Regions from separate parts of the Homo sapiens genome. Here regions 2 and 3 are each linked to region 1. The links come from fine-mapping of genetic effects on gene expression. A gene starts in region 1. Each other region holds a variant in brackets. All regions are shown on one strand. Distances are between the middles of the regions.

Region 1 (8,185 bases):
TCCCCATCACCTCGGCTGAGATAACCTAGTGGATCAAATAAGAGATCCAGCAGAGGGGCTCTAAGAAGCCACAGAAACAATTCCCTGGACACCGTTCTCTGATGATGGGGCCAGAAGTCGTTGGAGACCCTGTAAACTGACCTGTACCCCAAAACTATTCCTAGATCTAAGCAGTTCCCTGGGGCTGACGGACAACATGCCATGCAGCATGTTACTGAGACTCATGCTTCTAATAAAAATAATGTAGAGCTCTTTAGAATCACTTTGTCCAGTGATCTCACTAGATAGGGTCAATGCCCAGCAGCCAAGCCAGAAGGAAGACTTGCTTAGGGGAAGAAACCACAGAGACTTGGCTAGTTTGCTTCCATTACGAAAAAGGTAATCTTGTTAAATAAACTTCATAAAGGAAAGTGGCTCCTTGAGGGGTACATCACTACAGACCCCCTCCTCCATAGTGCCTTGATAGTGGCCACTTTCTCTGAGGAGGAGGAGCAAGGTGGGGAGATGAGAGTGTATGTATACCAACGACCATCTCTTTCCTCAGCTGGGTACTATTTGGTCTCTGACAGATTTGGTCCACACATAATGAGTACCTAGTCACTGAAAAACATGTCTCAACCACCTTCGCAGAGACTATGGAGGTCCTGCAGCCCTCCTGGTGGTCTCTTGGGTCTACTACGAGGGAGTGGGAACGGTAGATGAGAAGATTAACCAGACTTAGATTTACGGGTTTGTTCATGCTGCTCCTGCTTGTTGTCAAGCCCAATTAAGCCACCTCCTGAGGTCAAGTCCATCAATCTGCAGTGTGATCCAGATCTTAACTCAGAAATTCTCAGGCACAGAAGAAATGGCTTCCGATAAAATAGCAAAATTTGACCCCTCCCCTCCAAAAAGGGAGCATAAAAATAGTACTTGAGTGCCCTCTTCTGGACTGTCTGGGCAAGGGCCTTCCCAAAGAGATCTCTGAGTCTGATTACTCAATAATGGAACCACGAAAGCAGATTGATGGGCTCCCCACTAAAAAATTCAGGGCCAAGTACCAGGCCATGGGGATTTGATAAGTGGTCCCGCTAGAGTCTGCACAGTGATGGCCTTCCACCTCTCCTGGTGGATTTGGAGACAAATCAGAGATCCTGAGCAACTTTTGCTCTGACACTCAGCTTTCAAATATAAACAAGATTAGGGGTTACAAACAAAAATCCAAAGATTTTAGGGGTTATAAACAAGATCCTTCTGTACTCAGGGGACCCAGAGGCCCTATGCCAAGGTTAGAGTTCAACTGAACAGTGGAGAGGAATTGCACTTCTTAGGCCTTTTAGATACCAGTACACAGGTGACTGTGATCCCCACAAACCCTTGCATCAAGATGAGGAGAAAACAGATCGTGTTCTCTGACTTTGGGCTCCTACTAACCTCCGTTGTCATGGCCCCCACTACTGAATGAAATATTGGCAGTGATGTGTTTTCCATGTGCAGCCCCACTTGCCTTTGCCTCCAAGCCCTGACAGGAATTGCAATAGTTATGGCCATCTTAGTGAGAAATATAGAAGACCATGGACCCATCTGATGACCAACACCTAGTACTGTTGTTTCCCAAAAAACAATGTCAGCTGCCTAGGGGAGAAAAAGAATAATTGCCATCATTGCTGAGCTTAAGGAAGCCAAAATGTTTCATGAGACTGTTTCTCCATTCAATAGCCCCATCTGGCCTGTGCACAAGACCTTGGTTTCTTGGAGACTTACCACTGATTTTAGGCAGCTCAATGCGTAATACCACCTTTGGCACCAGCAGTACCTGACATTGTGACTATTACAGAGGCCCAAAACAGAGAGAACTTGGTATGCAGCAATTGATATTGCAAAGGCATATCAAATTGTAGTCCCCAGTGTTGGAGATGGGGCCTGGTGAGAGGCGATTAGATCATAGGGGCAGATTTCCCCTCTAGTTTTGTTCTAATGATAGTGAGTAATCATGACATCTGGCTGTTTAAAAGTGTAGCATCGGCTGGGCATGCCCTCAGCCTCCCAAGTGTCTGGGATTACAGGCACTTGCCACCATGCCCCGCTAATTTTTGTATTTTTAGTAGAGATGGGGTTTTACCATGTTGGCCAGGTTGGTCTTGAACTCCTGACCTCGTGATCTGCCCACCTTGGCCTCCCAAAGTGCTGGGATTACAGGCATGAGCCACTGTGCCCAGCCTAGTCTCTAGCTTTTAACTGGATCTCAGCTCTGGGCAGAGCCCACGCTGAATCCTGGATCTCCAAAAGATAGAATTATCATGATTCTAGACCATGTGATGCATTTGCACTGCACTTTGTTACAAAGACTTTCCTCTAAGTGTCTAAAGTATACCTTTTCTTATCTTAAACACCCGAAGAGTAGCCTCTGTTGTAATAACTTAGTCCAAAAATCAGGTAACACAGTACAAAAGCAAGCAGTTTAAGATCTGAGAGGAACTTGTCTGTTTAGACTCTTGGGGTTCCATAAGGAAAAACAGATGTTTCTCCTCAAAAAGGACTCTAGTGCCTTCTCTGTTTTATTTAAGGAATTACAGGCTGTTAGAAACTATTTTGGGTCCCTCATGCAGCAGAGGGGAACAAGAGAAAGGAGAGATAGGCAGAAGTAAATGGAGAAAACAGAATTCATTTGACTGACTGAGAAGGAAAAAACCTTTTTCTCAAAAAACAAGGTACTAGGAGAGAAAAAAAAAACAGGCCAGGCACGGTGGCTTACGCCTGTAATCCCAGCATTTTGGGAGGCTGAGGAAGGCAGATTACCTGAGGTTGTCGGGAGTTTGAGACCAGCCTGACCAACATGGAGAAATCCCATCTCTACTAAAAATACAAAATTAACTGGGTGTGGTGTCGTATGCCTGTAATCCCAGCTATTTGGGAGGCCGAGGCAGGAGAATTGCTTGAACCCGGGAGGTAGAGGTTGCAGTGAGCCAAGATCGCACCATTGCACTCCAGCCTGGGCAACAAGAGTGAAACTCCTTCTCAAACAAACAAAACAAAACAAAAAACCATAAAGGCCTTTTAAATATACACACACACACACACATCGTGGATATTAGCTTTTAATTAAACTGACTTTTAGCCACTAAGCTCTTAAAAAATTCTTCTAAATCTCACTACCCTATTTTAGCTGGAACAAATTGCTGATATTTCAAAAATAACACAAATATCAAACCAGAAAGAACTTGATTTAGGAACCAAACCCAGGCTGTTGTGGTGGAAAAAAGGGCAAAACCTTAGCTACAGAACTGCAGTGTGGAGCACAGTTTGGCTTGGCTAGCAAAAGGTGGCCTTGTTATGTAAATAAAGCCCCTCAGGTAGTCAAAATCTTTCTTTTTTCCTGTTGATGGCTGTTTATCCTTTTCCCTTTTCCCCCCCAGCTGCAGGAATTTACCCAATGCAGAGGCGTTGTTCCTCACCATTTGTAACTTTCCTTCACATTTGATATAGTTGGGTAGAGTTAGTCAAATCCAATGGGAAAAAGACCAAAACAACAAAACAAACAAATAAATGAAAAAACAGTTTGGCAAAACAAACAAATGATCATACTATGTATACAATTCCTGAGCACTCTAATGGTAAGGAGAAATTAAGAGCTGCTGGTTGTTAATCTTAACTTTAGGTCATTAAGGAGAATTTTCAAGATAAAACCCCAATTCAGCTACTTACCTAGGAATGGAGTCCAGGCTCAACACTGCTCTCTACCAGCCTATAAGCAGGAAAAAAACTCCAACTCGCCTTCCCTGTTGGAATTGAGCTGAAACTCCAGAAAGGAGTTGCCTGCCCTCCATCATCATGGAAGCAGGAAAACTCACCTTCCTTGTTGAAAGTGAGTAAAACTCCAGAAAAGGAGTTGTACAGCAAAAAAAAACCTTAGATATCGACCAAATTTGGGGAGATCAGGGTGAGGGAAGAGACGGACCCTCTCATATTGTTTTATATTGTTTTATACTCAGTACCTGTTTTAAGAAAAAAACAAGGAAGTGAAACCAAGGGCAGGCAGCCAGGCACCAGACCCAAAACCAGAACTGAAACCAGGCCTGGGCCTGCCTGGCCTAAACCTAGTAGTTAAAAATCAACTCATGACTTAGCAACCGATGTTATCCATAGATTCCAGACATTGTATGGAAGAACGCTGTGAAACTCCCTGCTCTGTTCTGTTTCACTCTGACTACCGGTGCATGAAGCCCCTGTCACATACCCCCTAGATTGCTCAATCAATCACGACCCTTTCATGTGAAATCTTTAGTGTTATGAGCCCTTAAAAAGGACAGAAACTGTGCACTCGAGGAGCTCGGATTTTAAGACAGTAGCTTGCCGATGCTCCCAGCTGAATAAAGCCCTTCCTTCTACAACTCAGTGTCTGAAAGATTTTGTCTGCAGCTCGTCCTGCTACAAGGGATTGTCTGGAGGGGGGAAGTTCCCAGGCCTCAGCAAATCTGCCTATTGATTTGAGCAATAAAGATATCTCAAGCTGGTACCAAGCAGTAATAGAAGATTTGTCAAAGGTCAGGGGCACCTCCACTCAGAATCCCTTGGTGGTTACCAATTTGTAAACCAAAAAGTATCTGAGCTAGGTCTCAATTAACTTGGAAATTTTATTTTACCAAGGTTAAGAACATGCATCTGGAAGGCAGGTCTATGCCTTTTTCCAAAGAAGATTTTGTGGACTTCAGTATTTAAAGGCAAAAGGGCAGATATTGGGGGAAAAGGAAAAAAAATTAAAGGTGTGGGTAGATAACAGACAAATGGTTGCATTATTTTGAGTGTTTGATAAACCTTTCACTGAATACACAGTTTACATGTGAGAGAAGGGTAGAGGAATAGTTACTTATGCCTTTGTCAGCTCAGTGAATCTGCATTTTTACATTAGGAAAGCAATCAGATATGCATCTGTCTCAGATGAACAGAAGGATGACTTTGAGTTCTGTTCTTTGTCTAGAACCTGTGAAGATAAGCTATCAATTTACATTGTCAGGGTAAAATTCAACAGAACCATTTTAAGGTAAACATCTTGGGGCTCAAAAGGAATGTCCCAGTGGACAAATTGTGAGACATGTATGTAGCTTTTTTTTTTGTTTGTAGCTATCTTATTTAAGAATAAAATGGGAGGTAGGTTTGCCTGATGCAGTTCCCAGCTTGACTTTTCCCTTTGGCTTAATGATTTTGGAGTCCTGAGATTTATTTTCCTTTTACAAGACATTACCATTCCAAAAGAATGAATATGGGAGGCATAAAGTGGTTTCTTGTCCCAAGTAAGTTCAAAATTTAGCATGGCAGGGCCAGGTGTGGTGGCTCACGCCTATAATCCCAGCACTTTGTGATGCTGAGGTGAGTGGATCACTTGAGGTCAGGAGTTCGAGACCAGCCTGGGTAACATGGTGAAACCCCCCTCCTCGTCTCTACTAAAATACAAAAATTAGAGGGGCATTGTGGTGAGTTCCTGTCATCCCAGCTACTCAGGAAGCTGAGGCAGGAGAATTGCTTGAACCTGGCAGGTGGAGGTTGCAGTGAGCTGAGATTGTACCACTGCACTCCAGCCTGCGTGACAGAATGAGATTTCATCTCAAAAAAGTAAATAAATAAATAATTAGCATAGCTAATTCCATTAGATTTCAAGGCCTAGGAACAATCCTCTTTAGCTCAATGTTCTGCCATCTGGTCTTGCAGTGATCCACCAGCTTCTGTGCCACCCTCATAATTCACTCTTCCTTTTTCTTGAAGGCTAATGTGTCTTTGCAGTCTAGTAGCCCTGTCAGCTCATATCCTGCCTATAGATTTCCAGAAGTCCAACAGTCTTCCTTCATTTCATCCCATATCTATCTCCTTTACTCCAAGATGCCAGTATTTCTGTTGATATAACATTCTCAAAATCCTTATCAGTCTCGTGTGTGTTATGGGAGTCCATGTCATTAGACAAGATCCTTCCTGGATAAACCCATCTCTATTCCTGCCTTCAGCTGATATGGTTGATTGGATCCATGAATCACATATATAATCTCTTTAGCAAGATTGTCCAGCCATACTGTTGGCCTTCTCTTCAGAGTATGCTTTTGCGACAATAAATTTTCTAATTTTGGCATCCTTTGGAATCACGATAGGCTGAGAACCTCCAAAATCAAGTGCTAGTTACTTTTTGCCTAATAGTTCTTTCCTCAATTTATATCTTTCACATTGAAATGGGAGAGTTCACTGACCCCCCTTGCAGGGCCTGCAACAGGGGTGTGGCTCGTCTGTTTGGCCACTGCATGCTCAAACCCCTTATGGGAGGGGGAGCACGCATTTGAGCTAGGGCAAGCACTTTTGGGCTCTGGGCCTACAGCAATATCCAGGGATGTTACAATGCTCCTTTAGCCCTGCCATCCAGGGACAGCTTAAGTGTTAAACAGCTCAGTGCCCTCTTGGTACTGGGTTCCTGTCCAGCATCCAGGAAGAATCAGGTCACACAGACAAATTGAAGGATGGTAAATGTGGCGTATTTTATTGCTGGATGGAGGTGGCTCTCTGCAGGATGGATGGGGAGCTGGAAAGGGAATGGAGTGGGAAGATAATCTTCCCCTGGAGTTCAGTCGTCCCTTGGCTGATCTCCTCTCCTACCGTCCCCAGCCTAACTCCTCTTGATGTTCAGAAGCTCCTTCTCTTCTCTCCTTCTCTGCCACACCACTCTTCTGTTCCTCTGCTCTTCTGCTTGTCTGCTCATCTGCTTGTGGATCCTGGGGTTTGGAGTTTATACAGGTACAGGATACAGGGGCGTGGCAGGCCAAAAGGCAGCATTTGGGCACAAAAACAGGAACGCTTGTTCCCATTTAGGGCCACGGGTTTCCAGACTTGAGGGTGGGGCCTTTGCTGGGAAACCACCCTCTTCTACCCAGTATTTCCCTGTCTCCTGTCTGTATCAATATTACATTTTACTATAAGCAGCAAGGAGAAACCAGGTTATGAAGATAAGCTATCAATTTACATTGTCAGGGTAAAATTCAACAGAACCATTTTAGGGTAAAGATCTTGGGGTTCACAAAGAAAAATCTTAAGGATTTTGCCTGTAAATTTCTGCCAAATATCCAAGTTCATCACTTTCAAGTTCTGCTTTCCATGTGACTGAAGAACATAGTTCAGCCAAGTTTTCTGTCACTGTATAACAAGCATTGCCTTTCCTCCCATTTTCAGTAACATTTTCTTCATTTCTTTCCAAGACCTCTATACAATCAACTTTAATATTCCTATTTCTAACAACAGTCTCTTCAGGGCAATTTAGGTTTTTTTCTATCACGCTTCTCAAAAATTTTTCTAGTCTCTATCCATGGCCTAATTCCAAAGCCAATTCCACATTTTAGGTCTTTAGTACAGCAACATCCCACTTCTAGTTTCAAAATCTGTATTAGTCAGGGTTCTTTCAGAAAAAAAAAAAAAAAAAAACCAACAGGGTATATATGTATTTGATTTGTTTCAAGGAATTGCCTTAGATGATTGTGGGGTCCAGCTAGGTAAGTCCAAAATCTGTAGGGAACTTGGGAAGCCTAGAAACTCTCAGGTGGAAACTGAGGCTGCAGTCAGCAGGCAGAATTTCTTCTTCCTCTGGGCATATCAGTTTTGCTCTTAAGGCATTTCAACTGATTGGATGAGGCCCACCAAGATTATCCAAGACAGTCTCCTTTACTTAAAGCAACTGATTATAGATGTTAACCACATCTATATAATACCCTCACAGCAGCATCTAGATTAGTGTTTGAATAACTGGGTACCATCACCTAGCCAAGTTAACAAATTAAACTAACCATATCTATTCAACTAATTAAATATAGTAATACAACCAAATAAATGACATTTTTTTCCATGCAGTATTTCAAAATACTTAAGAGTAGGCAACATATTGGCCCAAGGTCAGTGGCTCTGAGGGTAGCTGGACCACATCAGTCAGAACTGCTATAAAATAAAATAAAATAAAATAAAATAAAAAATAAAAAAACCTTCTGGCTAACTGCACTTGCAAAAAATCAAGAGAAATCCAAGATACACAGCACCACTACAGTCTTCTAGCTTCAAATAGTTGTAATATGATTCACTCCTAGCAATAGAGTAAAAAGGTAAAGCTCAAGTTACAAGTTAATTGATATTTTCCATAGCATATACCATAAAGAAAGGTGAAAAATTCAGACCCTAATGCTGATTC
Region 2 (8,185 bases), 90 kb before region 1:
AATGCTTGTGTTTTATATACCTAATTGCTACAAGCCAAAATTAGAATAGCTCAATGCATAAAATGTATGCTCTTATGTTACTTGAAAGTGATTTTAAAGGTTAATGGGTGCCTGCTTACCTCCATTCCCATCGGGCCTAGAATGTTTAATTGCCTATAAATCTTTTGGCTCTAATCCCTTGGCCATAGGGGTCGTCCCTTGGCCATAGGGGTCCTACCAAGGGACATAATGGACACACACCACCCTGGCAACAACACGGGACAAAATTAAAGTTTAGCCATCAATGCTGCCTCTGGTATGTCTTAACCAAAAGCAGTGGGGAATATAAACTAAAAAAAATAAAATCCTAAACCCCAACCAACTAAATGGACTCCCTTCTTGCCCGAAGGGAATCCCAAAGAAACCTAAAAGAAAAAGTTTCAGGCCATGACAGACAGCAGGGCATCAGGCATGCCTCACTACACCATCCCCACCCTTTCTGGAATTTAGGCAAAACTGACAAGCATTAACATTAAAATGGAGATCATAAGACTGATAAGACAGATTCTTTGTAACAATAAGATACCAAACTATAAACAAGACCACTGACCATAGGCTAATTCTGGCTAGTTTACAAAAAGTACACATTTGCATGCCTTTATGTCCTAAAAAGACCTTTTGATGTCTAGGGCCTAATTATAATACATTATATGTTAAGTCCCCACACAAAAATAAACATGAGTCATATGTTACATACATATTTGTTCCATACACATGTGTCAAGACTGCCTTCATAAACATTTATGACCTCTCCTGTATGTCTTAACCAAAAGATGTGGGAAATATAAACTAAAAAAAAACTGTTAAATTTGTGTATTGAGTCCACCTGTCATCATATCCCCACAAGAACTCTGGACACAATTGATAGTGGGGACTGTGCATGATAATTAAGTAATTAAGACTGAATGCTAAATATTATCTCAGATAATTCAGAAAATGTCTTGTTAGCCCTGCAAGACATGAACCAACAAATCAAAACTATGTCTGACCCCACATTGTCGCTAGCTCAGTGGTTAGCAACCTGGTTCAGGTCAGGACCGTCCTGGTGGCAAAAGCTGCTTATAACTTTGGCCCTGGTTGCAGGGATAGGCATATTTCTTTGCTGTGGATTTTACTGCTGTTGCAACTTCTGTATGGAAATGCAAGACAGGCTTTCCCAAGAGACTTTCCTGGCCTCGCACCATAATGCTCCAGCAAACATTGTCTGTGAACCCCAGTACTTGTGAATATTTCCAACTCCAATGGATCAGTTCCATTCTGGTACCCTATAACTCCTCCCACTTTCAGCAGTAAGTAGCCAGAATAAAAACAATGCCCAAATCCCATGAAAATGGAATGGAATTTGACAGTGGGGAGTCGTAACCAAGTACCTCATTTTCTTAAAAAGAATTATTTTTACCTTTTTTTCTTTTTCCCTCACCTCTTACTTTACTCTTTAGGAATACAATTATAAACTTTACCTTCTTTCCAACAGACACTCCCTGTGAAGCAGGAGAATAGGGTCTGGAGGCAGGGAACCTAAAGCTGTTTCACACTAACTTCCTAGAACTAAATTGAAAGGAAAGCCCTAACTTTCCACACCTAAGTAACAAAAGGACCAGAGGCTACTCCCTTTGCAAACCCCCACCTTTCCTTTGCTGCAGATGGGAAATTGAAAGTACCTCTGATTGGCTGATTTTGGCAACCAATCAGACCTTTATATAGGAGTGTAACTTTATAACTTTAGTTCAGCTCAATCTGATTGATTGCCAGCCAGGTCACCGTTTGCATAGAAGTACAACTTTTTGACTTCACTTTAGCCTCTGATTGGTTGCTTTCTGCAACCACCAGATGTTTGCATAGGAATGTGACCTTTGTAAGTTCACTTCAGCCTCTGATTGGTTGCTTTCTGCAACCACCAGATGTTTGCATAGGAATGTGACCTTTGTAAGTTCACTTCAGCCTCTGATTGGTTGCTTTCCGCAACCATTCAGACTGATTGCAGGCCACCACTTCATTTACGTGAGGTAAGCACCAAGTGGCCAATGGGAAACCTCTAGGGGGTATTTGGACCCAAGAAGATTCTGTATCTGGGCCCTTGAGCCGCTGCTCAGGCCTGCTGCCACCCTGTGGAGTGTACTTTCGATTTCAGTAAATCTCTGCTTTTGTTGCTTCACTCTTTACTTGCTTTTTTTGTGCATTTTGTCCAATTCTTTGTTCAAAACGCCAAGAACCTGGACACCCTCCACCAGTAACACCTAGACTGAAAGCTTATCTAAATATATGTTTGCTTAGAAGTATCAGGGACCAAATCTCAAAACAAAACAGGCACTCTCTGGAATTCCCCACCAGGAGATTGTCTCAAGACAACAATTAATTCACAATCCAATTCTATCCATGATGGTGCAGACCAGACCATCAGATGGCATCACTCAATATAAGTCATCCAAGCGAGTCACGTAGACCCCGCACCTCCTTGCCCTTCACACCAACTTTCCCTTTTTAAGCCCTTGCTTTCTTCCCTGAAAGTTAAATCAGTTCCCTTAAGGCAGGAGCCTGTTCTGTTTCCCCACTGCTAAGCTCTGGAATAAAAGTCACTTTCTTTTTACCACCCTCGTCCTTGTTATTCAATTTTGCAAGCAATGAGCAGCTTAGCCTGCGTTTGGTTACAGTAAGAGGAGGAAGGAGGAGAGAAACCAGTGGGAAGAGAGAAGTCTTAGAGACACCAGTTTGGGGAGATGATAAGTTTCCCAAAAAGACCAGTGAAGTTCCAAATTATCCTCAGCAAAACCATGTCAACAAGAAGGAGTTGGACAGTGTAGGTGGAGCATATAGTCAGTAGGAATTCAAGAATGGTGTTTCAGTTGACTCAGAAGTTCCTGTGGGAAAAACAGGATCAAATAGAACAGAGAGGCCTCACAAAGTAACAAGGAAAAAATTTCCAGCCTGGGCAACATAGTGAGACTCTGTCTCTACAAAAAAAAAAAAAAAAAAAAAGATTAAAATTAGCCGGGCACAGTGGCGTGTGCCTGTACTCCCAGCTACTCAGGGGTGCTGAGGTGGGAGGATTGCTTGAGCCTGGGAGGTTGAGGCTGCAGTGAGCCATGATCACACCACTGCGCTCCAGCCTGGGCAACAAAGGAAGACCCTGTCTCAAAAAAAAAATTTTCCAGCCCAAAGAATCAATGAATAATTCCCACTCAAAATAGAAAGCCAGAAAGAAAAGCTTTCAGCCCAGGGAGCCAGAGAATAATCCCCACTCAAGACAGAGATCCAGGAAGGAAACCATCCAGCCTAGGAGATACCTTTCAAAACAAGCCTGGAACTCTAACCTGCTTCAGAGAGTATACTCAGAATCTTAAGAATCAAATCAATCCTTACCAGCTTTAACAGAAGTTTGCCTGGAACAATGGTTCAAAAGTCTGACTTAGCAGTGGATCCCAAATCAATCAGTCAGGAGTGAAGGAAAGGGCTTAAAAGGTGCACATTTGAGGTCC[G/A]CAGTGATAGGTCCAGGAGTCCAATGATGAATCTGATCCTATAAAAGTCACAGCATCATTACTGTTCAATTTTTTTAAATGACACTTGTTAAAGATGGTGAGAAAGACTGTGTTCAAGGGGGAAATATCAAGATAAGTATAGGAATCACTGCAATGGCATCTTGCAATGGGGGAGATAGATTGAGATCAGCTAAAATACAATGTGGGCAAGTGGGAATTTAGAGCCAAGGAACAAGGTGGGAGTCAATGGATGGAAATTAACTAAGAGGAAACATCAGGCATAATGGAAGATTTGGGCCAAACCGACCTAACATTATTTTTGCTGAAGGCACCAGGGCGATCAAACATCACCTGGGAGATGGTGGAGGATGAGGAACCAGATTAGATATTGAGAGTGCTTGGATATGGGGGATGACTAAATAGACTTAGCAGGACTTAGCAATTTCCTTGCTGAAATCGGACAATGCAGAGACAAACTCAGAAATCCAAAACTCCAGGCCTAGTTGAAAAAGAGCTCAAGGGAACCTGAGTAAAATTCGGTCAATAAGAGAATCTTTGTCAGCACTAGAATTCTGGGATGAATAAAACAGAGGTCCTTCCTTCCAGGAGCTCAGTGTAGTGGGGAATAAAAACATGCTCTCTAATCCCAGCTACTTGGGAGGCTGAGGTGAGAAGATCGCTTGAGGCCAGGAGTTCCAGACCAGCTTGGGCAAGGTAGCGAGACTTCATCACTAAAAAATACAATTTTTATTACATAATATATATATTATATACAATATATATTAATATATTAACATATATAATATATAACATATATATTATATATAATTTTCTTTAATGATAACACAAGACAAGGAAATTCCAGTGAGTATGAGGTGTTTGGCCATGTGTGCTCCAGCAGAAGGTGAAAGGGAGAAGAAGGAGACCAGGGCAACTTATGAAGGGACGTGATGAAGAGTAAGAATGTAAGGGAGTAGGTAGGATGCATAAGGGATCCATCAGCTAGATGGATTGAAAGGGTGAAAACACAAGGCAGGCAGAGAGGAAATGTGAATAGACAGAAGTAAGATGTCAGGGACTCTGCAGGCAGGTGAGCTCACTCACTTCTGCCACAGGCTCTCCTCCCTCTCCTTATTGAGGAGGCTAGGCCACAGCTTGTCATACCCATAGGGGTGTGGGTAGCTGCCATAATTGGCGGACCAGAAGACAGAAGCTAAGGGGATGCCATGTGGGGCAGAGGGCCACCCTAGAAAGCACGACCACTAGTGTGAGCGGTAGGACTGGTTTCAAGAGCCTTGGCAGAGGCCACCCAGCTGATGGCTGAGGCCATTCCAGTCCCTAGGCCATGGGCAAGAGTGAAAGTGAAAGCAGCAGTCCTGCAGGGAGTGGGCAGATTTGCTGGGCTTGGGGCTTTTCCAACAACTTTGACATTTCCTCCAGAGCCCAAGGACTCCCAGATACCTCACTGCTGCTGTGGGATAAGGGGATAAAGAAAAAAGCCAGTAGGGCAACTGGGTCCCTGTCTCCTTCCAGTTCCACATGACATTCAAGTCTAAGCTAAACAGGAGACCTTGTCCTTTCTCTGCCTCATTCCGAAACGACTGAAGGAAGTGTTACCAAAACACCAAGGCTACCGTCTAAGTCCTGCTGCTCACTGCACAGAAAGCCAATCACAGAGACAGTGAGTATTGCCAAGGAAAAAGGCTATAATCGGATGCTGCAGCTGAGATGGAAGCTCAGTCTCAAATCCATCCCCCGAACCCACTAAAACTACGGGTTTATATAGCAGGGAAGAAATTTAACAATGTATAAGAAAACAGGAACTAGGGAGGGGCAAGGAAGCAATCAAGATGAAAGAGGGGTCTAGCATCTCACTGTCTGGATGTAGTGATCTGGTGAGTTTCAGTTCTTTGATCCCTTTTTTTTGAGAGGCCTGAAGGTTGCTTCCTGAGGAAGGAACTCAGATAAAACAAATGTAAGGTTCAAACTTTAACACCAGAAGGGTCCATTTCTATTTTTATCAAAATGAACAGTCCTTGGCAGGGTTCCCCAACCCCTGGGCCACAGAGCAGTACTGGTCTGTTGCCTGTTAGTAAATGGGCTGCACAGCAGGAGGTGAGTGGTAGGTGAACGAGCACTACCGCCTGAGCTCTGCCTCCTGTTGGATCAGCGGTGGCGTTTTATTGTCATAGGAGCGCGAACCCTACTGTAAACTGCACATGCAAGGGATCTAGGTTGCGTGCTCCTTATGAGAATCTAACTAATGCCTGACGATCTGAGGTGGAACAGTTTCATCCCAAAACCATTGCCCCGCCCACCAAGTCCATGGAAAAATTGTCTTCCACGAAACCAGTCCCTGGTGCTGATAAGGCTGGGGACCACTGGTCTATAGAACTGTTGGGTCGGTTTCAGAAGGACCACAGGTCACAAGACGTATTTCACTGAGCAGCTGTTTCAACAATACAGTCAGTTCAGTTTGTGTTTCGTGTGTGTTTACATCAGGTATTATATAGAGCACACTGTCACATATATCTGTATATAGATAATATATATATGAGTGTATATAACATATGCATGTGTATAATTATAGGGATGGCTCAAATCAAAGTACCTAATGTTTTCCTTAATCTCCTAAATTAAAAGAAAAATATAAATGGGATGAATGGATGAGAAAAAAAGGACAAAGTATTTAAAGCATTTCCTATGAAAATGACATGTTTATATGAGAGTTGCAATAAAAATACGGAGTGCTGAGTCAAACTACTGATAAACAACAAATATTTTTAGATAACTGTGTCTCATGCAATATTTGGGACATACTTTATACAAAAATATTTGTTGCTTATTTGAAATTCAAATACAAGTGAGTGTCCTGCAGTTTACCTGACAATGCAGAAGGGGAACATCACACACTGGGGCCTGTTGTGGGGTGGGGGGAGGGGGGAGGGATAGCATTAGGAGGTATACCTAAGTTAAATGACGAGTTAATGGGTGCAGCACACCAACATGGCACACGTATACATATGTAACAAACCTGCACATTGTGCACATGTACCCTAAAACTTAAAGTATAATAAAAAAAAGATTATTTCCTATACTTCAAAATCAACAAGATTTGATTGCATTTAAATTTTTCTGTCCATTTGTTCTTCTATGTAATACTTTAAAAATAATTGGCATAAAAATTCAATCAATTCATAAAAGTCCAAAGCAAAAAAAAACAAATCTACTGACATCTCTTGAGGAAGAAATGATCAGGATTGACATTAATGAACCCTCTCACAGAGACCACTACACACACACACAAAAAGAAGGATGGGTGAATGGATGCAGAGAGAATTTAATAAGACTGAAATGATGCCATACATGCTTTTAAAAAATAAAAAGTATTAAATTTTAAATTTTACTTCAATATAAGAGAAGAAAAAGAAAAAAAGGGAGATTGAAAGAACTGCTGAACTTCAGGAAGTTCTACTTGATCACAAATTGATACTAGTTTTATAAAATTCCCTTTTTCTTCTCAAGGGTGCCCTGCCCTTCCAGCCTGGTGCCTTGCCCCTTGAGGCATAATATTTCTGAAAACTGTCCAAAGGACCTGCATATTGTTAAGAACAGCTGCAAAATGTACCAGAGAGAAAGATCAGGTGAGCTGGTGCCTAATTCATTACTGTGAGGTCTCCTCTCTTGGACACTTGTGAAGTCTTGGTCATCAGTGCTCTGAACCTTAAGATCAGAACCAAGTAAAGAGAATGAAAGATAAAGTTAGAGAAACTTCAGGTAGGGATGGAAGGCAGAGAGCAAAGCATATATGGGCACGGGACTTACAATAAGGAACAGCAGGACAGCACAATGGCATTCTTGGATTGTTGGCTTTAGAAACGCTGTCAATTATATTCTACTGCTCCAGAGAATGAAAATTGCTTAAAATTGGCTTCTCAGGCAGAGTTTACAAACTAGCAGCTCCAGCCTGAGTCTGTTCTGCAGACCTGATTTAGATGGCCAGCATACTTTTCAATAAAACATATTTCAGTTAGTTACCAACATTTAAAGAACTGAAGGTTTCATATCAACATTATAATTTGTGGCCAATCTTGAAAAACTGAAAAATCTGGCAGTCCTGGCCCAACATTGCCAGCCAGCAACACTAAGCTGGAGCTGAATACTGGCTGCCCCTTTGGAAGAGACATATTCTTTCCCAGTTTGCCACAGTCCCTACCCTGCTTGCTTCTCTCTTTTATGTTACCTGTCTGGCCTTGTCAACATTTGAATTTACAACTCTGATTATTACAATTTTTCTATTATGCAAACTGTCAGACATATACAAAAGCAGAGAGAATGGTAAAGATGAACCCTATTTGTACCCATTATCCAGTTTCAACAATTATCATAGACAACCTTGTTTCATGAATACCCTAACCAATTCTCAAACACACTTGGATCTCCCCCTGGATTTTTGTGATGCACATCTAGACGTCACATCATTTCATCAGTAAATATTTCAGTGTGTATCTCCAAAAGAACCAAATGTGTGACTCCTAACCAGGCTTATTCTGTTATGTCACATATTCCATGGGTTATACTGTGGTGAGAGGATATATTACAGAGTAATAGTAACAAATATTTCTGAGGTCTTACTCTGTGACTAGGTATTGTGCTAGGTACTTACATAT
Region 3 (8,185 bases), 63 kb before region 1:
ATGAGCCTAGAACATGTGATGCTTTTATAATGCACTTTCTTTGTGAAGACATTTCTCTTAGTGTCTAAACTATACTCTTTCTGATTTTAAACACCCAAGAATAGCCACTGTTGTAATAACTACTTTAGTCAAAACAAAATCAGGTAACAATACAAAAGCAAGCTATTTAAGATTTGAGAAGAACTTGTCTGTTTATACTCTTAAGGTTCCATACGGAAAAACAGAGGTTTCTCCCCAAAATGGAGTCTGGCACCTTCTCTGTTTTCTTTAAGGAATCTCAGGCTGTTAAAAACCATTTTAGGTCCCTCATGCAGCAGAGAGGGGCAAAAGGAAGGAGAGACAGGAAGAAAAATGGAGAAAACAGAATTCAGTCAACTGAGAAAAACAAAACTTTTTCTACAAAAAAAATGAAGTTCTAGGAAAAAAAACCATAAAGGCCTTTTAAGTGGACACACACACACACATACACACACACACACACACACACACACACACACCCAAAATCTTCAATATTAGCTTTTTAATTAAGCAGATTCATAGCCATTGAGCTCTTCCAAAAAAAAAAATCCTTTTAAGCCGGGTGTGGTGCCTCACACCTGTAATCCCAGCACTGGGAGGCCAAGGTGGGTGGGTCACTTGAGGTCAGGAGTTTGAGACCAGCCTGGCCAACATGGTGAAACCCTGTCTCTACTAAAAATACAAAAATTAGCCTGGTGTGGTGGCACATGCCTGTAATCCCAGCTACTCAGGAGGCTAAGGCAGGAGAATTGCATGAACCCAGCAGGCAGGTTGCAGTAAGCCGAGAATGTGCCACTGTACTCCAGCCTGGGCAACAGAGCAAGACTCCATCTCAAAGAAAAATCCTTTTAAATCTCATTGCCATATTTTAACTGAGACAAATTGCTCATACTTCAACAGTAACATAAATATGAAACCTGAAAGGACTTGATTTAGGAACCAAACCCAGGGTGTTGTGGTGGGAAAAAAGGGCAGAACCATAGCTACTGAACTGCACCATGGGACAACAGCTGTTGCTCTTTCAGTTTGGCTTGGCTAGCAAAAAGTGGCCTTGTTATGTAAGTAAAACCCCTCAGTAGTTAAAATCTTTCCTCTTTTTCCCCTTTGCTGGTCATTTTTTCTTTTTCCTTTTTTTCCCCAGCTGTGGGAATTTAGCTAATTCAGTGGCATTGTTCCCCATAATTTGGAAATTTCCTTCAGATTTGACTAAGTCTGATAGAGTTTATCAAATCCAATGGAAAAAAGACCAAAAGAAGAACAAAAATAGAAACAAACAAAAATAGTTAAGCAAAACAAACAAAAAATTGCACAACTTATACAATTACTGAGCACTCTAAAGGTAAGTAGAAATTAAGAGCAGCTGGTTGTTAATTTTAACTTTAGTCATTAAGGAGAATTTCCAAGACAAAATCCCAATTCAGTTACTTACCTAGGAATGGAGCCCAGTCTGAAGATGGCTCTCTACCATCCTAGAAGCAGGAAACAACTTCAACTCACCTTCCCTGTTGGAAGTGAGCTCACACTCCAAAAAGGAGTTGCCTGCTCTCCATCAACATGAAGCAGGACAATTCACCTTCCTTGTGTAAAACTCCAGAAAAGGAGTTGTACAACAAAATAAACCTTAGATCTCAGCCAAATTTGAGGAGATCATGGATTCTCTGAAGGGGGAGCTCCCAGGACTTCACAAATTGTCCTATTGGTTTGAACAATAAAGATAGCTCAAACTGGTACCAAGCACCAATAGGAGATTTGTCAAAGGTTAGGGGAACCTCCACTCAGAAGCCATTCCTGGTTACCAACTTGTGAACCAAAAGTATCTGAGACAGGTTCCAATCAATTTAGAAAGTTTATTTTACCAAAGTTAAGGATGCACCCATGACACAGTCTCAGAAGGTCCTAATGACATGAAATGTAGCAGGACGATCCACAGACAAAACTCCTCAGGCACCAGGTTAAAGACGGAAGGAGCTTTATTTGGCCAGCAGTGTCGGCAGACTCATGTCTCAAAAACCGAACTCCCTGAGTGAGCAATTCCTGTCCCTTTTAAGGGCTTACAACTCTAAGGGGGTCCACATGAGAGGGTCGTGTTCGATTGAGCAAGCAGGGGATATGTGACTGGGGGCTGCATGCACCAGTAATCAGAACAGAACAGAACAGGACAGGGATTTTCACAATGTTTTTCCATACAATGTCTGGAATCTATAGACAACATAACCAATTAGGTCAGGGGTCGATCTTTAACTACCAGGCCTGGAATGCAGTGCTGGGCTGTCTGACTACTGATTTCACTTCTGTCTTTTAACTCCTACTTTTTCTTTGAGGCAGAAATTGGGCATATGACAATATGAGGGGTGGTCTCCTCCCTTATTCCCCCCTTTGAGAACCTCACTCATTAGTGGGAGTTCTCACTTTCATCCTCACTACCCATGTCTTCTTGCAAGACAGATCAATAGTGATTTATATAGTACACCTGTGCTGAAGCATTTTGGTGAACTAAGGTAGCGGTGAAGCTTTTTATTACTTGTAGGAGTACAGGTAGCAAACAAGGGAGTAGTAAGCAGGTTCTTATTGCTATTATAATTTTTATTATAAGAGTTTTAAATGCTCTTAGCCCTAGAAACCATTTTCCAAACATGGCTCCAGGATTAAGTCCATGCCATACTTGCATGGGCACATGTGCCAGTTTTGTCATATCTTTTTGTCTTCAACTACTTGCCCTTGATCATTTATGTGCAAACAGCAATTGGTTAGGTAAAATTTTCCACAGACTCCTCCTTCAGCTGCTAGCAAGTAGTCTAGGACTAGTCTATTTTGATAGATAGCATTTCTCATCTGGGTTTTTGCTGGGCTAAAACAGTTAAAGCTCTGCCAGTTTTATTAGTGATTACTTCTCAGACAGCTTATAACCGTATGATTCGGTTGATAGTATAAATGGGGGTTGGGTATCCCCATGAGCCATCTTGTGCCTAAGTGGTAGGCCCATAGTACTGTATGATTCTTTCAGGGGGCCACTTGTCATCTTTCCAGTCGCCTATAGCTATGCTTCTCTTTTCTTGGGAAGCATAGACTGGGAAGCCTAGAAGTTCGCCTGTTTTTATGGGCAGTAGGAAAAAGGATGGGTTATAGCACACATCAGGCTGGTCACTTCCTGGTCTACATACCTTGTATAGAATAGCATTATACAAACAAGTTCCTTTTAGAGTCCCAGTACACTTATAATAACCATAAAATAATAGGACTGTAGCAATCTTTTGTCCTACCTCAGTGACTTGATGTATATACTGGGAACAGTCCTCAGTCTGAGGAAGGTCAGTTGAAGTTCTTACTGTACAAGTCCAAATTTTAAGGGAAATGAGTCCTGCGATGAGTTTCCTCATGCTTTGACCATGCAAGGACCAGTCAGCTTCCAGGTGTGACTGGGGCAGGGCTTGTCATCTTCTTCAGAGTCACTTTGCAGGGGTTGGCGAAGCTGCTCCCATGCACGTACAGCTCCCAGTCTACTGATGTTTAAGGATGGTCTTGGAGGTTGGGCCTGCTAGAATAAACTGAGTCCAACACCTCTACACAGTTAAGTTTAACTGGGCTCTCTGATACCAGGAGCAAGGTGGCGGGGTTTAGGGTGTTGCAAACTTCAATGGTTATGTGGGGATTTTTCACAGAGCAAGCTTTGGTATCTAGTTAGTCTAGTATTTGTTAGCTAATGACGTCCTTTGGTATTTATTAAAGTCACCACAGCATGGGGGGCCTTTATGTTTAGGTTTTGCCCAAGAGTTAGCTTATCCACTTCTTGTGCTAGTAGGGCTGTTCCTGCCAAGGCCCTCAAACATGGGGGCCAACCCTTAGAAACCCCATCTAGTTATTTAGAGAGGTAGGCCACTGGCCTCAGCCAGGGCCCCACAGTCTGGGTTAAATCTCTAACTGCCATTCAGTGTAAAAG[G/T]TTTGGTCAGGTCAGGTAGCCCCAGGGCTGCAGCCAACATGAGGTTTTTCTTTTAACTCCTGAAAAGCTAGTTGCTGTTGGTTGTAATAGGTGTAGTTTATTTACTTTACATTTTTATTAACTGTCACCTACCAAAATATTGACTTAAATCCTGCAGCTATTTTATTTTGGGCTTTAAATTGATCTGGTATTTCCCGTGGGACTCCAATTGCATCTAAATAGACATGAGAGTCGAAAGACCCATAAGAGGCTTCTCTCGCTTTATGATGTCTTATTTTTCCTCCCTCTGGTTGATGAAATGCCAGGGTGAAAGGGATAGCCAATTGGACTAAAGCACAAATGCCACTCCAGTTATTCGGCAGAGTGCCCAGTAAAGGTCCACCACAATACCACACACATCCGCTCGGGGATGAACAAGGGCTGACTGATTGATAAGCTCTTGAAAATTCTTAAGCTCACTGCATCCCTTCAGGTCTCCAAGGAATGCTAAGTTTTCTCCCTGTTGTGAGAGACATGAAGTGAACTTAGTGTTGGGAGATGGAAGCTGGATGGCCCTCAGGGGCTGACTCGCAGGGTGCCAGACTTCAGGACATAGCGGAGAGAGCTTGGCACGACTTATTACTCCAGGCTGTAGAATCCTGAAAAAGAGCTATCATGCAGCCCACACCTGGTCAACTGGATGACTACCTTAGTGAAAAGGGGACAATCTGGGCCTCTGGCCTGCCATGTGCACAAGCATAACGATTGCTTTTGTTTAATGTGCGGAAAGAATATTTGATCCATTCCAACCAGGCATTTGCATCTTGGTATACTGCCTTAATTGCCAAAGTTTGTTTTAAGTCTTTAACTTCTATGATTCTTTAGTAAAATGAATGTATGGTTTTAGGAAATTACAAAAACTGGTTGGGGTAGTTCATTCTTGCTTTTTAGTGGTCCACAGAACTTTGGACCAACTACGGCATAAAAGCTCCACATCGGGGGGCAAGACTCCTGGTTGACACTGGGGTCTTTATTGAAATCTCCCTGGATTAGATGGTCCTAATTTACTAATGCCCAGTCTGAGGAGAGTCAGGAGGGACAGAGGTACTTTTTTGAAGTAGAGAGCTGTTTTTGGCTTAGCAAGTCCCTGCAGGGTATAACAAAGCAAGCATTAAATGCAATAGTTTGAGGCGAAATTGACTTGGTTATGTTAATAACTACATGGTCAGTAATAGAGCGAGGAAAGAAGAAAGTAATAGAATAGATGAAAGAATTAAATTTTTCTTAGCTTGAGTTTGGTAGGGTTTTCCCCTGGGACTATGGCCCATGACTCTGGAGGGGGTGGTGCTTTGACTCGGGTATGATGAGTCCATCCCTTTTCTGCTGTAAGAACAGCAGTCTTGGTGGTTAGCAGCACAAGGAAGGGTCCTTCCTAGGCTGGCTCGAGTTTCCCTTCTTTTTACCCTTTGATGAGAACATGATCCTCAGGCTAGTGCTGGTTTACCAGAAATTCTAGGGGTGGTACATGTGCTAAAAGACTTTTAGTTTTAAGGGAAAGGAAAGTGGAAGATAAACCAAGTATGCAATTTTTAAGAAATTGACCTTTTGTTTTAAATGTGGGATCATCAGCAGTCCTTGGTGCCTTTCTACTGAAAAATTTCCTTTAGCACCTACTTTTATTAGTTTTTAGACCAAAGAAAGCCAAACACCATTTTATATTTAATAATGCTTCCTGTATGATAATACAGGAATAATAATGCTTCTTGTCTTTCATGCATGGATGTGAATTGACAGTTCAATTGCATTTAAAATATGGCACAATGAGCCATTGGCTGTGCTGAGAGATCTGGGTTGTTGACCAAATTCTGAGGCTTCCTTGTTCTCAATCCCTCTCACAACCTGTTTCCCTAGGAACTTGGTGGTCAGCAGAGCACTTGAATTCTCCTTCCAAACCATGAGCTTATATTTTTGGCTGTTCCTTCTCTCTTTTGCAGACACACGTGCATGTAGGCATGCATGCACACACACAGGATCTTTAGCTAGAAAGCACCCTGGAATGGTCACATCACTCCATTTCACCCTGTGCTTTTTGGTCATCAGAATACCCCCACCCCCACAAGCTGCAACCACGTTTCTACCTGTTAGAAGACACAACTGTCAAGTTGTTCCCAGTGAGATAAAACAAGAAACAATCGTCTATTTATGAGAGCATTTTCCAATTTAAAATTCCAATTGACTAATCCAGGAGTTTGGGAAATTTTCCATATGCACAGTGGCCTAATATCAAACTCCTTCCTATAAAAATAGGAACAATTCATCATCATAAAGCTTGTCAAGCCAGTTGTTAGTGGGACCCACAAAGCCAGTTCCTCAGTTGGGTATCAAATCCGTACAAATCTGTATTAACTAAAAATAATAACTAGTTTATTCACGAGAAAAATTAATTTTAAAAGTACATAATTCAGGTCCTTCCAAAAACACATTAGTGATTAAAAGCTTTTTTTAGTGTTGAAATCTCTTAAAAAGTTATTGATATAATTGGGAAGGGCCTTCATGTAGAGTCGAATGAACACAGACCATAATACATTCCTGCACAACCCCTACTCCCTATTGGCTCCCCTCCGGAGTCCTGCATGGGTGCTCTAAGTGGCAGTCATGTGCTAGTCCATGCTGCAGGGTCACAGATTGGGAAGACCGGTAATGAATGGAAGCTGGATGTCCCTGAAGCTATAACATAGGCCAAGTGCAGTAGCTCACACCTGTAATCCCAGCACTTTGGGAGGCTGAGGTGTGCAGATCACCTGAGATCAGGAGTTGGAGACTAGCCTGGCCAACATGGTGAAACCCTGTCTCCACTAAATATATGCCTGTAATCCCAGCTACTGGGGAGTCTGAGGCACGAGAATCACTAGAACCCGGGAGGTAGAGGTTGCAGTGAGCCAAGATCACACCACTACACTCCAGCCTGGGTGACAGAGTGAGACTCCATCTTAAAAAAAAAAAAAAAAAAGGAAAAAAAAAAAAGCTGTAACAGAAAAACAACTTAATTATTGCAAAGAAGAGATCAGTATAGTGACATGTGACTCCAATCCCACTGCAGTGTCTAGGGTAGGCATGTGTTACCGTGTGCTCTTTCAGTTTAGCCATCTGTAGGCAGCTTGTGTTTATCAACTCAATTAGACCCCCTGCCTTATCGCAAGGGCAGAGGGCTTTCTGTATCGCAGGTTCTTGCCTTGGTGTACCAGAAAAATCAGATCACATGTGGGCTTGGAGGATGGGTGCAAGGTTTTTTATTGAGTGGTGGTAGCTCTCAGCGAGGTGGATGGAGAGGCCAGAAGGGGGATGGAGTGGGAAGGTGATTTTCCCCTGGAGTCAGGCCACCCAGCGGCCAGGCTCTCCTCTGACCACCACAGCCAAAGTCAGTGTTGTTCAGCTGGTCGGCCTGCTGGCATCTGCTGGTGTCTGCTGGTGTCTGCCGGTGTGCTCTTCCACCAGTGTGTTCCTCTCGAGGGCCAGCCACTTCTGTCTGCCCATGGCCACTTGTGTCTCTGCCAATATGGTCTCGGGGTTTTTATAGGCACAGGATGGGGGCGTGGTGGGCCAGGGTGGTCTTGGGAAATGCAACATTTGGGCATGAAAACAGAAATGCCTGTCCTCACTTTGGTCCATGGGCACAGGACCGGGGTGGAGCCCTTGCTAGGGACCCCGCCTTCTCCTCCCAGCATTTCCCTGCCTCCCTCCCCTGTCATTGGTGTGCTCTGGCCTCCCCTCACTTCCCATTCAAGAAACACAGGCTGCTCTCCGGAAATGGCAAGAACATCGTGCGCCATTTGGAGGTGGGAGAGTTGGGAATAGGAGAGGTGGGGTTGTTCTCTGAGGACCTAAAGTCCCACCAATCAGGAGTCTGGCAAATGAACCACAATTGCAAAATTGGCTTTTATGTGAAAGTATACATTCTGGTGCCACAAAAGTCGGGCAATTAAGATTTCCATTGAAAAGTTTCTTACTAGAAATTTCCCCAAATCACATAACTTCTCTGACTCAATTCAGCTCTTGGACCTAACTCAGTGAACGATTACTTTCAGTATCCAATAGTGTGGTCCAGTTTTTCCATTTAACACTATTTCAGAAATGCTTTTCAACATTTTATCATTTTCTTCATAGTTTTCATTTTAATGTCTGCATTCGTATCTTGTAATTTGCTTAAGGTTGTTTCCTGACACATAATGAGTGATCAACAGATATCAATTG

Alleles and levels. Alleles are on the strand shown, and positions count from the first base shown. SD is a standard deviation of normalised expression in the study named. Not every link is listed here.
For the expression in pancreas of the gene that starts at base 3,981 in region 1, G is the high allele of the variant in region 2 and A is the other (large effect, 0.94 SD a copy in GTEx).

What was found. PIP is the estimated chance that this variant, and not a neighbour inherited with it, causes the effect.
Region 2: its variant is fine-mapped to the expression of RHOXF1-AS1 in pancreas (GTEx, PIP 0.95).
Region 3: its variant is fine-mapped to the expression of RHOXF1-AS1 in whole blood (TOPMed, PIP above 0.99).

Annotation. Positions count from the first base shown.
Region 1 is chrX:120,032,032-120,040,216 of GRCh38, reverse strand. It overlaps RHOXF1-AS1 (RHOXF1 antisense RNA 1), which reads right to left and starts at 3,981. Exons shown (of 5, transcript NR_131238.1): 1 at 3,685-3,981.
Region 2 is chrX:120,122,313-120,130,497 of GRCh38, reverse strand. All of the region lies in intron 2 of RHOXF1-AS1 (RHOXF1 antisense RNA 1), which reads right to left. Among named protein-coding and RNA genes, the nearest start is that of LINC01402, 6.7 kb to the right of the region's middle. The variant G/A (reference allele first, on the strand shown) is at 3,516.
Region 3 is chrX:120,095,434-120,103,618 of GRCh38, reverse strand. The region is part of intron 1 of RHOXF1-AS1 (RHOXF1 antisense RNA 1); the gene reads right to left. Among named protein-coding and RNA genes, the nearest start is that of RHOXF1, 16 kb to the left of the region's middle. The variant G/T (reference allele first, on the strand shown) is at 3,956.